Regions from separate parts of the Homo sapiens genome. Here region 1 is linked to region 2. The links come from fine-mapping of genetic effects on gene expression. A gene starts in region 2. The other region holds a variant in brackets. All regions are shown on one strand. Distances are between the middles of the regions.

Evidence for each region. PIP is the estimated chance that this variant, and not a neighbour inherited with it, causes the effect.
Region 1: its variant is fine-mapped to the expression of CCDC125 in skeletal muscle (FUSION, PIP 0.95).

What each region holds. Positions count from the first base shown.
Region 1 is chr5:69,284,508-69,287,419 of GRCh38, forward strand. It overlaps CCDC125 (coiled-coil domain containing 125), which reads right to left. Exons shown (of 12, transcript NM_176816.5): 11 at 830-960. Among named protein-coding and RNA genes, the nearest start is that of CCDC125, 47 kb to the right of the region's middle. The variant A/G (reference allele first, on the strand shown) is at 1,764.
Region 2 is chr5:69,331,192-69,334,103 of GRCh38, forward strand. It overlaps CCDC125 (coiled-coil domain containing 125), which reads right to left and starts at 1,610. Exons shown (of 12, transcript NM_176816.5): 1 at 1,458-1,610. It also overlaps the pseudogene CHCHD2P2.

The sequences.
Region 1 (2,912 bases), 47 kb before region 2:
CTGGCTGGAGTTAACTACAGGAGCCCCCTGTTTTCCAAGATGGAGCCTTTAAACCTGCACAGAAAGAATATGAATGACGAGAAAAGATGAGCTGAGGGAGATAAAGATCATGAAGGTAGAGTCTGGTACTCCAACTGGGAAAAGGACATAGAAGGCAAGTGCAAGTCTAGAGAGATAAAGAGTTGAATTAACAGGAAGCAAATAGATTAGCTTAACCTAGGGGTGTCCAATCTTTTGGCTTCCCTGGGCCACACTGGAAGAAGAAGAATTGTCTTGGGCCACACATAAAATACACTAACACTGGCTGGGCATGGTGGGTCACGCCTGTAATCCCAGCACTTTGGGATGCCGAGGTGGGCAGATCACTTGAGGTCAGGAGTTTGAGACCAGCCTGGCCAACATGGTGAAATCCTGTCTCTACTAAAAACGCACACACAAAATTAGCCAGGCGTGGTGGTGGGCGCCTGCAGTCCCAGCTACTCTAGAGGCTGAGGCAGGAGAATTGCTTGAACCCGGGAGGTGGAGGTTGCAGTGAGCCGAGATCGCGCCGCTGCACTCCAGCCTGGGTGACAGAGACTCTGTCTCAAAAACCAAACAAACAAAAAAACCAAAAAACAAACAAAACAAAAAAATACACTAACACTAATGATAGCTGATGAACTAAAAAAATATATATATATATCAAAAAGATCTCATAATGTTTTAAGAAAGTTTACGAATTTGTGTTGGGCCACATTCAAAGCTGTTCTGGGCTGCATGCTCCCCACGGACCGTGGGTTGGACAAGCTTGGCTTAACCATAACCTGCAAAAAAAAGCAAAGACACTAACCAAATCTATGAGCATCTTAAGGACCTCTTGAGGACTGTCCTGGTCTTCCATCCTCTTAGAACTGTTTTCTGAAGGGAGCATACCCAACAGTCTCTGCCCGAAGGTCTTCTTACTCCTTGGTGATGGAAATCCTAAAATTGAACATGAGAATCCAGCTGAGACATTAAAATATCCTCACTGATATACTTCCAGCAAAAGAGGTAACTTGATCTCTAGGACAAGTGAGTCCAGGAGCACACAGTGGAATGTAGTGAGCAGAGCACAGCCTTCAGAGCCAGGAGCAATGCAGGTGAGAGGCAGCAAGAGTGCCGCCCTGCCATGCGGCACAGCCACCCCTCTGTGCCAGCTGACACACAGGCCACACAAGAACACAGTCCATGTCACTGGATCATCACAGTCTTCAAGAGCAGCCAGAAATGCAGATCTGTCATGACATCTTCCAATTCTAAATGTCAGCCACTAGTCTTATTGTTTGACTACACTAAGCCAACCTAACAAAACATGTCTGCAGGCCACAGGGGGCCTCTGAGCCATGCAAACTCTGCTTCCGAACAGCAAAGACCTGGACTTGAATCCTCATTCAGCCACTTACTAACTGTATGACCTCGGGTGACTTTTCTCAGCTTGATTTCCTCATCTCTAAAATGAGAATAGCATTACCTTCTTCTCAGGGAACTGTGCCATTAAATAATAAATCACACGGGCTGGAGAAGGGGAAGTGAGGAGTTACTGTTTCATGGGACAGGGTCTCTGTAAAGAAAGATGAAAATGTTCTGGAGCTGGATGGTGATGAAGGTTACATTACAATGTGAATATACTTAATACCACTTAAAAACAGTTCAAATGGTAAACTATATATATATATATATATATATATATATATATATATATATATATAATTTTTTTTTTTTTTTAGATGGAGTCTTGTTCTGTC[A/G]CCCAGGCTGGAGTGCAGTGGCGCAATCTCGGCTCACTGCAAGCTCCGCCTCCCGGGTTCGCGCCATTCTCCTGCCTCAGCCTCCCGAGTAGCTGGGACTACAGGCGCCCGCCACCACGTCCGGCTAATTTTTTTGTATTTTTAGTAGAGATGGGGTTTCACTGTGTTAGCCAGGATGGTCTCGATCTCCTGACCTCATGATTCGCCCCCTCTTGGCCTCCCAAAATGCTGGGATTACAGGCGTGAGCCACCGCGCCCGGCCAACTTTAGATATATTTTACCACCATCACGACAACAACAAAAAATACCACAATTGTCAAAGGCCCTGCTCAGGTATTAGCATAATATTTAATATTTCACGTGCTGACATCATTGATGTCCTTCTTCATCCATTGAAGGAAAGTAATTTGCAGAAGTTATAAAATCTCAGATTGTACAAGGAAAATTTCAAGAATGTTTTTGGAATATTCTCCAAAAGTGGTTTAGTGGGAAACTGAGAGCAGATGAGGGGAGATCCCCTTCCCACCAATCCTGACAGACCACAGTGACGAGGGCGGCCCTGACCCCTTCCACGAGGAGCTGTGGCAAACAGAAGTCAGAGAAACTGACACTTTGATGAGTAGATGAATCTGTGTCCCTATTTTCAGTCTAAAAAAAGAAATAGCTTGGTGTGATGGCTCAAGCTGGTAGTCTGGAGGATTGCTTAAGCCCAGGAGTTTAAGATAAAAAAAAAAAAAAAAAAACCCAAAAGCAAAAATACAAAGAAAGAAAGAAGTATGCCTATAAACTACTTCCGGAAACTTGTCTAAACTGCCATATCAAAAAGAAAGTTGATATTAAGTGTTACTAAACATAAAATAATCTGTATCACCCTGTACCTCTTAAGATTACTGAAATATACTAATAAAATGAATTAAAGTCTTGTCACTGAGAAACTGAGAAAGAACTACTCAAACTTGTATAGATTTATAAAAGCTGTGCGAGATTAATCAATTTTTTTTTTTTTTTTTGAGATGGAGTCTCGCTTTTGTCGCCCAGGCTGGAGTGCAACAGCGCAATCTTGGCTCACCACAACCTCTGCCTCCCGGGTTCAAACATTTCTCCTGCCTCAGCCTCCCGAGTAGCTGGGATTACAGGCTTGTGCCACCA
Region 2 (2,912 bases):
ACTTGGGAGGCTAAGCAGGAGAATCGCTTGAACTTGGGAGGTGGAGGTTCCAGTGAGCTGAGACAGCACTATTGTCTGTCACCCACGCTGGAGTGCAATGGTGCGATCTCGGCTCACTGCAACCTAGACCTCCTGGGTTCAAGCGATTCTCCTGCCTCAGCCTCCCCAGTAGCGGAGATTACAGGCGCCCACCACCATGCCCGGCTAATATTTGTATTTTTGTAGAGACGGGGTTTCACCATGTTGGCCAGGCTGGTCTAGACCTCCAGACCTCAGGAGATCTGCTCACCGGTCTCCCAAAGTGCTGGAATTACAGGCGTGAGCCACTGCGCCCAGCCGAAACTCCGTTTCAAAAAAATAAAAATAAAAATAATGTATCCAACTGAAGTGTCACCCTGTTTTCTACAACAAAGCTACAGTTTTCACCTCCAGTTTCATCTGGCAGTACTCCCTGGATGTACTCTGCGCTTCCACGTAAGAGGAACTGCACTTGCTCCCAGGGCTCCTCCCTCAGCTCAGCTTGGTCACCTGCAAGCCTCTATTGGTGCCATTCTTCACCCCAGGAATGCTGTTTCTTCTCAGAGCCCCCTCAGTTCAGGACAGCACTCCCTCCAGTAGCCTTCCTGACTCCCTTGGACCAGATGTGATTTCTTCCACATCTGAGTCTTCCCAGTTCTGGGAGGTTTTACTGAATCTTTTTAATAGTGCTTACTTCCTACCTGACCTAGACTGACTGTATATTCCCTTATGCAGAGACTTTGTGTGTCTCGTTTGCTTATGCACAACATGTGTTCCAAAGATATTTGACAGAATCGAAAGAGAAAACCGATTCCTGCCCGGAAACCTTTGGACAGAAGAATCTACATTCAGTAGCCTGACAACTCTGCCTTAGCAAACAAGTTGGTCAAACATGCCTAACTCCATGACAAAGAGGAACTAACTTGAGCCCTCCCTGGTGAACAATGGCCTGCTGCACTTTGCTTTAGGATTTTGTTTCTTAACTTTTCATTTTAGAATAATTTTAGATGTACAGTAAATTGCAAAGATAGTACTAAGAATTCCTGTGTACCTTTTACCCAAATTCCTCTAATGTCAACATTTGTGTACAATTTGTCGAAATTAAGAAATTAACATGGGTACGTGCTATTAACTAAACCACAGCCTTTATTATTTTTTCCACTAATGTCTTTTTCTGTTTCAGGATCCAAACCAGGATACTGGCGCTATAGTTTTATAAGGCTCAAAATTAACAGAAGAGAAAAAAAGTAAAGCAGGTGGAGAGGCAGAGAGAGAAATAGGGTCTCTGAAATCTATTTCTTATTTTTTTCTTATCAGACGAGGCCATTAAACTGGCATTCAGGGAAAAGGATTTGGGCAGTTTGTCCACAACCTGCAGAGTTTCCACGAATCTGCGCATCCCGCCCCTGCCCTGGGTCCTCCCCACTCCCGGTTCCCACCTGCCAGGTCTGACCCCGGGTACCCTCTCAAGGTCCGTGGCGGGGACCGGAGCCCGGACTCCAGCTCAGCGAACAGCACCCTCCTACCGCCCCGGCGCCCCACTCAGCTCGCTCACCTGGCAAGTAGCCTCCTCTCCGTGCGCGTGCGCCGCTGCCGCCGCGCGTCCTCCGGGCCACCACGTGACCGCGTGGGCGCAGTCCCAGACAGGAAACGCCGGTGAGGTCGCCCTGGGCCATGGAGGCAGCTCGCGCTACTTTTTCGCGACCTCACTGTGTTCCTGTGTGCAACCTGATGTTAGCTCTGTCCACCTTCAGCTCCAAAGCCAACCACGGGTAACCAATATGCAAACAATGACATGAGATTTAGAAAAACAACAAGACGGGGCCTGTGTCAATACAGGTAAAATTTGGTGGTTCAAACATTGAGGTTCAGACCGGCGCGGGGTTTCACACCTGTAATCCCAGCTTTTGGGAGGCCAAGGCGGGAGGATCGCTTGAGGCCAGGAATTCGAGACCAGCATGGCCAACATAGTGAGACCCCGCTCTACAAAAAATTTAAAAAGTAGGGCTGGGCGCGGTGGCTCACGCCTGTAATCCCAGCACTTTAGGTGGCCGAGGCGGGTGGATCACGAGGTCAGGAGATTGAGACCATCCTGGCTAACACAGTGAAAACCCTTCTCTACTAAAAATACAAGAAATTAGCCGGGCGTGGTGGCGGGTGCCTGTAGTCCCAGCTGCGCAGGAGGCTGAGGCAGAATGGCGTGAACCCGGGAGGCGGAGCTTGCAGTGAGCCAAGATCGTGCCACTGCACTCCAGCCTGGGCAACAGAACGAGTCTCCGTCTCAAAAAAAAAAAATAATTAAAAAGTAGCGGGTGTGGTGGTGCGTACCTGTAGTCCCAGCTACTCAGGAGGCCGGGAGGCCGTCAGGTGGGAGGATCCCGTGAGCCTGGGAGATCCAGGCTACAGTGACCACTGCACTCCAGCCTGGGCGACGGAGTGGAGACCCTGTCTCAAAAAAGAAACAAACCAAAACCAAAATATTAAGTCTCTAGGAATCCTGTAAGAGAAGGGTAGATCGGGCCAGGTGCGGTGGCTCACGCCTGTTAACCCAGCACTTTGGGAGGCCAAGGTGGGTGGATCACCTGAGGTCAGAAGTTTGAGACCAGCCTGGCCAACATGGTGAAACCCCATCTCCACTAAAATACAAAATTTAGCCGGTCGTCACACGTCCGGAGGCCGAGCCGTCGCGTACCTAGGATGCCGCGTGGAAGCCGAAGCCGCACCTCCCGCATGGCCCCTCCGGCCAGCCAGGCCCCCTCAGATGAGAGCTGCACCCAGGCCAGTACCAGTCGTTCAGCCACCAGCAGCGGCACCCCCATCTGTAGTTGGCTCTTCTGCTGCTGCGCCCCGGCAGCCAGGTCTGATGGCCCAGATGGCAACCACTGCAGCTGGCG